Linked DNA regions of Homo sapiens: region 1 is linked to region 2. Evidence: fine-mapped expression QTL. A gene starts in region 2. The other region holds a variant in brackets. All regions are shown on one strand. Distances are between the middles of the regions.

What was found. PIP is the estimated chance that this variant, and not a neighbour inherited with it, causes the effect.
Region 1: its variant is fine-mapped to the expression of FAM193A in whole blood (INTERVAL, PIP 0.97).

Annotation. Positions count from the first base shown.
Region 1 is chr4:2,696,940-2,701,321 of GRCh38, forward strand. FAM193A (family with sequence similarity 193 member A) reads left to right here. Exons shown (of 21, transcript NM_001366318.2): 19 at 2,741-3,605. Among named protein-coding and RNA genes, the nearest start is that of TNIP2, 57 kb to the right of the region's middle. RefSeq lists an enhancer at 1-165. The variant T/C (reference allele first, on the strand shown) is at 2,178.
Region 2 is chr4:2,534,265-2,538,646 of GRCh38, forward strand. It overlaps FAM193A (family with sequence similarity 193 member A), which reads left to right and starts at 2,383. Exons shown (of 21, transcript NM_001366318.2): 1 at 2,383-2,906. The coding sequence starts at 2,652. RefSeq lists silencers at 1,267-1,426, 1,647-2,296, 2,307-2,356, 2,617-2,716, 2,797-3,086 and 3 more.

The DNA.
Region 1 (4,382 bases), 160 kb after region 2:
GCCCAGGTGGGCTTTTGGGGCCTGTGGGTTCAGAAGTGTCTTTGATATGAGACTGGGGCGGGGCACTTGGCACAGGGAAGTCTTCTGGACTCAGGTCTGAGCATGTCCCCCATGCTGCTCTTGTCCCACTGCTGTTCCAGATGAAGACCAGCACATGGCATTGATTAGAGGGGAGGAAAATAAGTCTTCATGGGAAGACATGAGCAGTTCCCTCCTTACCAGAGGGCATGGTGTGTCACAAAAAGCAAATGTCAAATACAAAAAACGTTAGCCAGTCATGGTGGTGTACGCCTGTAGTCCCAGCTACTCAGGAGGCTCAGGTGGGAGGATCACTTGAACCTCAGAGGTGGAGGTTGCAGTGAGCCGAGATTATGCCACTGCCCTCCAGCCTGGGTGACAGAGTGAGACTGTCTCAAAAAAAAAGACAACTTTTTTCTCTTGGAGGATTGTCTAAATGCCCCTATGCTGGAGCAGTTCCAAAGAGCCTTCTGGTTTCAGCTCCCTAAAAGTGTCAGGCTCCAAGAACCAGACCTCAGTGAGCAGATGTGGGCTGCATGCAGAGGGAACTTGTAGGTTCCTGGGGTTCTGACAGTAGGACAGTGGTCTTGGGAAGAGGCCAGGTTTCTGTCTGCAGCATGGTCAGGCAAAAAGGTGAGGAAGAGGACGATCCCACAGTGGACCAGAGGGTGGGCCCGATGTCCTGTGTTGTTACTTGTATCTTAGCTGTTGTGATTGTTCTACCCTCAAGAGCTCTGCTCATACCTCGCAGTCCTACAGTAGATTTAGACTGACTATTGGGCCTGATTGGGAGGCTTTGGGGGAGAAGCCTTGTCCCGTGCCCCAGAAGACTAGAGACTGCTGGAGTGCAGAGAACACAGTGTGTCCTCCATTCAGGAGCGTCCAGCATCGGGGTACCCACGATGGTCCAAGGCCCTGAGACGTCCCATTGGGATTCACTGGAGGCCTCTGGGACGCCTTCCTGAGTTTTCAGGGTACTCTCCACCCCAGGCTCTTGCCCTCTGACCTTGCAGGTGGTCTGAATCCAGACTTGAGGCCCAGCTGAACCTTAGAGGCTGATGTCATAGGCCCTGCCCAGCACCCAGTCCCACCTCGAGGGACCACCTCCTGGTGCTTTCTACGCTGCACCCATTTTACAGAGCAGCTCACAGATGTGTGTTGAGGCTCACTGGCTGGCTGGTTGTTGAAGGGACAGCAATAGTTGACCTATGGACTCTGTCCCGTAGCAGGTCCAAACCGGGGGCCTGTGCTGGGGCAGCCGTTCTGCTGGAGACCAGGGCACCTGCCTTTACATGCTTGTTATTTGTCCATATATTGACAAGGCACGTGTGCTGGATTTAGATCAGCTCTGAGAGGATGCCAACTGGCCAGTGTGTGCCAGCGAGTGTCCTGATGGAGTTGGTCTCTCCTCTGCTCCCGTGCAGGCCCACAGCTCACTCTAGACACTGGACTGCAGGACCCATCCACGAGGTGGCTGCTGGGTGCTGCTCCTGACATACACATGGAGAAGGATGTTAAATAATTTTTACTTGAATTGTCAAATGAAATTTTTAATAACATACCATTGTTAAATTTTTATCATAATTTTTAAGTTTTTCAAAAGACAAGTCAATTTGCCTGTTTAAAATATTGTGAAAAATAATTTACACTTGGGGAGTACTTTTCTATTTCTCTAGGAGAAATGCTTTTGGCAGAGTTTCTCATAAGCCCCAGCATTTCTAAAGGTTGGTGGTGGGTGGAGCCGTGCTCCTAACACTGATGACTCTCATCTGCTTTCTGAACACAAAGAACAGTTTCCATTTGTGCCCCTGGAGTTTGTGTGCATCACTACTCAAATGCTGTCTTTACTTGGGATGAAAATTAATTTTCCATCAAGTTGGACAGTGAGTCATTTGCTCTGTCACATCTGTCACACTAGTGAAAATATATGGCACTTCTGTTTATCTGCTAGGGTGGGAAGAAGGAATTTCTAGTTCTTTACTACACATTGCTTTTTGTGGTGCCATCACAGCTCATTGCAGCCTCAACCTCCTGGCTTCAAGCGATTCTCAAACCTCAGCTTCCCAAATAGCTGGGACCACAGTCGTGCGCCCTCACATCCAGCTAATTTTGATACTTTTTGTAGAGACGGGGTTTTGCCATGTTGCCCAGGCTGCTCT[T/C]GAACTCCTAGGATCACAGGTGTGAGCCACTGCACCAGCCTGGTACACATTTCTTACATTCCCTGTTCAAGTGAATGCATTAGCCTTCGCCTGGAAAGGTGGGTTTGCTCAGAGTTCTGGCGGCACGTGTACAGCCTCAGTACTGCCCGGGCAGTCTGTGGTATTGGTTACATCATCCACTCGGCCAGGCGGCATGATGCCCTGCCGCACCTGTGAGGGGGTAGCTGACTCCCTGGATGTGTGCTTTGCAGCTGCTTTGTCCTTGGTTACTGTGTTTAGTACCAGGTCAAAGGCTATCGGGAATTTTTTGTTAACTACCACCCCCCCCCCCACACACACACACACAAATAAGTAAGCATATACTTTAGTAAATAGATGAAGTTTAACAATCCTGCAGAGTAAGAGAATTGGAGGTGGGTGTGTGTTAAGTTTTGATTTATTACAGCCTCTTCAGAGTTTATGTTCCATATGTGATTCGTTTTTGAAATTATCTTAGTTTTTCTGTATGACTTAATTTTTAGCACTCACTGTAGTCTTAAATTGCCTTCTTTTTGCATTGGCAGCTGGAGGAGAAAGCTCGCCTAGAAGCAGAGGCCAGGGCCCGGGAGCACCTGCACCTCCAGGAGGAGCAGAGGCGGCGGGAGGAGGAGGAGGATGAGGAAGAAGAGGAGGATCGTTTCAAGGAGGAATTTCAGCGGCTTCAGGAGCTTCAGAAGCTAAGAGCTGTAAAAAAGAAGAAGAAGGAGAGGCCAAGTAAAGACTGCCCCAAGTTGGACATGCTCACTAGAAATTTCCAGGCAGCAACAGAGTCTGTTCCTAACTCTGGAAACATCCACAATGGCTCACTAGAGCAAACTGAAGAACCAGAAACCTCTTCTCACTCCCCATCCAGGCATATGAACCACTCAGAGCCCAGGCCAGGGCTAGGGGCTGATGGGGATGCTGCAGACCCCGTCGACACCAGAGACTCCAAATTTCTCCTCCCCAAGGAGGTGAATGGGAAGCAGCATGAGCCACTCTCTTTTTTCTTCGACATCATGCAGCACCATAAAGAAGGAAATGGCAAGCAGAAGCTGAGGCAGACCAGCAAGGCCAGCAGCGAGCCAGCGAGGAGGCCCACAGAGCCCCCCAAGGCCACAGAGGGGCAGTCCAAGCCCCGGGCCCAGACTGAGTCAAAGGCTAAGGTGGTCGACCTCATGTCCATCACAGAGCAGAAAAGAGAGGAGAGAAAAGTCAACAGTAATAACAATAACAAAAAGCAGCTGAACCACATCAAGGACGAAAAGTCAAACCCAACCCCTATGGAGCCCACCTCTCCCGGTGAGCATCAGCAGAACAGCAAGCTGGTGCTGGCAGAGTCCCCTCAGCCAAAGGGCAAGAACAAGAAAAATAAGAAGAAGAAAGGAGACAGAGTCAACAATTCAATTGGTAAATACAGAATAGCGGGAAGGTATTTCTGAGCGATGCCTGGTTTTCCATGTGTGATGTGCTAGTATAGGAAAACACTGGGTTTGGCATGCTCTCGCCATGTGGCCTCCCTCCTGTAGAAAAGAGCGTAGAGGGGCCAGGCATGGTGGCTCACACCTGTAATCCCAGCACTTTGTGAGGCCAGGGTGGGCAGATCACCAGAGGTTAAGAGTTCGAGACCAGCTTGGCCAACATGCTGAAACCCTGTCTCTACTAAAAATAACAAAAAAAAATTAGCTGGGCTTGGTGGTGCACCTGTAATCCTAGCTACTCGGGGAGGCTGAGGCAGGAGAATCGCTTGAACCCAGGAGGCAGAGATTGCAGTGAGCCAAGATCATGCCGTTGCACTCCAGCGTGGGTGACAGAGAGACTCCATCTCAAAAAATACATATAGAGAGAGAGAGGATTTCTACCCCCTCCAGTTCCCCAACTTTAGTTCCCCAACATCAGTATTTCCCATGTTTGCTTCGTTATTCTCTCTCTCCCTCTCTCTCTTATTTTTCTGGACAGAAGGAGAGTCACTTCATACATGATACCCCTTTAACCTAAAATACTTCCATGTATATTTCCTCAAGATAAAGACACTTATAAAACCACAGTACAGTGATCAAAATGAAGAAGTTGACACTGATCCAATGCTATTCTCTAATTGTAGACCTTACTCATGTTTCTCCAATTGTCCTTTTAACATCCTTTATAGCAAAAAAAAAAAAAAAAAGCTCTTGTTGTTTCTCCTGA
Region 2 (4,382 bases):
ACAGGCATGAGCCACCAGGCCCGGCCTGTCATTATTTTTATTCTTTTCTTTCTTTCGTTTTGTTTTGAGTTTTTGAGACGGAGTCTCGCTCTGTGGCCCAGGCTGGAGTGCAGTGGCTTGATCTGGGCTCACCGAAAGCTCCGCCTCCCAGGTTCACGCCATTCTCCTGCCTCAGCCTCCTGAGTAGCTGGGACTACAGGCATCCGCCACCAGGCCCGGCTAATTTTTTGTATTTTCAGTAGAGACGGGGTTTCACCGTGTTAGCCAGGATGGTCTCAATCTCCTGACCTCATGACCCGCCCCACCTCGGCCTCCCAAAGTGCTGGGATTACAGGCGAGAGCCACACTGTGCCCGGCCTCTTTTTTTTTTGACGGAGTTTTGCTCGTTGCCCAAGCTGGAGTGCAATGGCACTATTTCGGCTCACTGCAACCCTTGCCTCCCGGGTTCAAGCGATTCTCCTGCCTCAGCCTCCCGAGTAGCTGGGATTACAAGTGTGTGCCACCATGCCCAGCTAATTTTTGTATTTGTAGTAGAGACGGGGTTTCGCTTTGCTGGCCAGGCTGTCTTGAACTCCCGGCCTCAGGTGATCCGCCCACCTCGGCCTCCCAAACTGCTGGGATTACAGGCATGAGCCAAGGCACCCAGGCCTAATGGTCATTATTGTCATTCATTGATTCAGCAAATAGTAGAGTGCTGGGTGCTCAGCCTCTTGCTTTGCAGTAGCTTGGGTGTCAGAGGTGTGTGAGGCAGGCATTCTCAGGTTCTCTCCTGCCCAATAAAACCTTTTGTCTTTGGGGATACTGGTGACATCATGAATCCCAATCCTGTGCAATGTGCTATGACAAAGGAAAGGACAGGGGTTGAGGCAAGGGGCAGGGACAGCCTATGACACTGAAAAAGAGGCCAGAAACGCATTCCTACCCGCTCTCTCAAAATCCATGTTCAGTGGCAGGATCATCCAAGACCCTGATGGGGCGGGGGGCCTTTTTTCGTCTAGGATGGTATCTGAATGGCTTTAAGGGTAGCTTTCTTCTGATCACATGAGATTTCTGCTTGTGTCATGAAGAATGGGTCAGAGGATCAGGAGGCTGTGGCTGCAGCTGGGGCGGGTTGCGGGGACCCAGGACGAACAGTAGAGCTCGGTTAACGCTGCAAGGGGAGCCTGGCAGGCCGTACATCCCAATGCCAAGCCCGCCGCCTCTCGGCCTGACACCACCGGTGGAACCAAAAAGGGGAAATCATGTCCTTTGTGCCTCTGTGTCTGTGGTAAGCGGGGCCCTCCAGGGGGCGGAGCCGCCGGCAGGGTCCCCCCGTGGCCCGGGTCTCAGGGCAGAGCTCTGCCTGGGGCTCGCAGATGTCTGCAAGGCCGCGGAGGGAGGAGGGTCCAGACGCAAGCCCTTATTTCTGATCTGGACGTCTGCGAGGGTCTGACCCGGCTAGTCGTCCCCGAGGTGCGTGAGTGCGAGGGTGTGGGACACGGCCGGATCGTCCTAGGGCCCCGTGGATTAGCAAGGCACCGGGACCACTGGAGAGGGCTTAACGGGATAGCAGGGAGAGGGCGGGCTCGGGAAGAGCACCCTTTAGGCGAGGGGTTCTCGGGGAACCGACCGGCGTGTCCCAGCCCCAGGCCCGGTCCAAGATTCGCCGGCTCCGCCGCTGCCTCCGCACCCAGGCGGACCCCACCGCACCGCGCCCGGCTTTCCAGCGCTGCCCGAACCCCCGCCCAGCCCACGAGGCAGGGATTCTGTGGTCCTCACTGAGTCATCTGGACCAGAACTAGACTAGCCCAAGGTCACCGGGCGTTCCTGGCGAGGCCAGGGCCGCGCCGCGCCGCCCCTGGTGCATCCCGGGAGCCGCGCCGGTCTGCGGCACCTGGGCGGCGGACAGGGGCGCGGGCGAGGCGGGCGGGGCGGGCGGGCAGCGGACACCGGTCAGAGAGGCGGAACTCCCTGCCGCCAGCCGTGTAGTTTGCCTCGCGGGCGGCGGCGCGGCCTCCTGCCGGCCTAGCCCTACGCCCGACCACAACGCCCAGAAGGCCGCGCGGCGCGGGCGGGACCTGCGGCGACGAGCGAGGCGGTGACATCACCGCCGCATCCAGCTCCCTGGCCCCAGCTCCTCCCAGCGCCCGGGCCCTCGGCCTCGCAAGGCCTGACGGGAATCGTGGTCCACCCCCGGGTACCCCCAGCTGCTGCACGGGCAGCACGGACTTCAGTTCCCGGCGTGTCCTGCGCGCCGAGGCACGTTAACGGCAGGAGGGGGTGGGCAAGCAAAGGGAAAAGCAGAGCCGGGGGGCGGAGTAAGGCGGGGTGGGGGTGGGGGGTGGGGGCCCACACCCCTCCCCCTCCCCGCTGCTCCTTCCCCCTCCCCCGACGTAAACTGGGATCCCTTTCCCCTTGTGTCCGCCATATTGGACTCTAACTCTGGTCAGCCGCGGCGCCGGGACTGTGGACTCGCGGTTCCTCCCGCCCAGCGGCCTGCCCCGCAGCTCCCGCCCGCCCCAGCCCTCCCCGACCCGGACGCGACCCCGCGCAGCGCCCCCCGGCTGGCCGGAGCGCCCGCCGCCGCGGCCGCCTCAGCCTCCCCGCCTTCCCCGCCCTCCGCCGCCGCCCGCGGCCCCCGCGCCCGCTCTGCGCCCCTCTCCCCGCCCGCCATGAGCCCAGCCGACGCCAAGCGCGGGGCCAAGCGCCGGAAGAACAAGCGGGGCGGCGGCGGCGGCTCGGGCGGGGGTAACGGCGGCGCGAGCAGCGGCAAGGCCGGCCCGGCGGCGGCGCTGCGCGGTTCCCAGGCCGCGGGCCTGGCGGCCCCGGGCAGCGCGGCAGGCCTGGTGGGCGGCGCGGCGGCGGCCAACGGGCCTCTCGGCGCGGGCGCGAGCGCGGGCGGCGCCGCCCCCGGAGGCTACTTCGAGGTAAGCGGCGGCAGCGGGCAGGGGTCGATGGCGGTACGCGGTTGCCGTTCCCTCGCGCCTTGGCGGAGCTCGGCCTCCCGCTGTCGGCCCCGGGCCTGGGAGCGGGATGCTGCGGGCGGGCGGATAACGGGTCCTGCGGCGCTGCGCTTGCCGAGGTCCCGGGGCAGGGCGGCAGGTGGGCCGTGCTCGGCGTGACGCGGCCTCTGTCAGCCTCTTGAGAGGAGAACCTGAGCAGAGGCGGCGGGAGGGCTACACCGGGGCCGCCGCTCACGGCGACGGGCTGGTCCGCAGGCTGGAGCAGCCCCTCAACGGGCGGGGACGTCTCCGGGGTGCAGCTCCGCGCACGGCGCTTCGCCTTCCGCTGGACCCGGCGGGTGATACCCGCGAGGCCCGGGCTTCTGTCGTGGCGCCTCGCCCGCTGCGGCGGTTCCAGAGCGACTGCGATTCCGGGAGTGAGCAAAGCTGCCCTTTCGCTCCCAGGGCTTTGAAATGTTTCTCTGGCCACCTTCGTTATTCCGTGCGCGTGATGATTGAGAAGGGCCTCCCGGAAGTTTTCCTTTGGTCCTCCTATGTGGTTATTTGAAATCTACCTGACAGCCACCTGGAGCTGGCAGCCCTGGCCCCTCCTCCCCCGCTTTGTTAAGTTTTCAGGGGTATTTAGTGGTTTGGTTACTCAGGTATGTATTTAGGGTTCGAACTTAAGGAATTTGAAAGGTGATTTTTTTCAGTTTTGTTTATGAAGACAGCTAGCACACATTGCACCTACCAATTATGGATTCCTGCCACTTTTATTCAACCGTTGGTCACAACATTTCAGAGGGTACACTATTTATAAGTGGGTATGCAATTGGCGCAGTCATTTCCAGTTATCCCATTGTCTGCTGAAAGAGAATAGATTTTTTTTGAAAAGTTGCGTTCTTATAATGTTATTTAAACTCTTAAATTATGTAGTTTTAAAGATATTGCAATTAAAAAATGAAAGAAGCGTTGGGAGTATTTTTGTGCTAAATCATGACACAAATTGTTCTTTTTTTTTTTTTCTTTTGAGAACGGAGTCTCGCTCTGTCGCCCAGGCTGGAGTGCAATAATGGCGCGATCTTGGCTCACTGTAACCTCCGCCTCCCGGGTTCAAGCGATTCTCCTGCCTCAGCCTCTCGAGTAGCTGGGACTACAGGCATGCGCCACCATGCCCGGCTAATTTTTGTAGAGACAGGGTTTCACCATGTTGGCCAGGCTGGTCTCGAACTCGTGATCTCAGGTGATCCGCCCACCTTGGCGTCCCAAAGTGCTGGGATTACAGGTGTGAGCCACCGCGCCCGGCCGTTTTTATTATTATTATATTGTTACATTAGGGTCTTGGGCTGTAGTCCTGGACTTCAGTCTCCCGAGATTGCCCTCATCCAGTATCCTGGAGATCAAAACAGGCCGCAGTTCTTGGGATCAAGGATGAGTCTTGAGCGTTTGGATCTTTGGGGT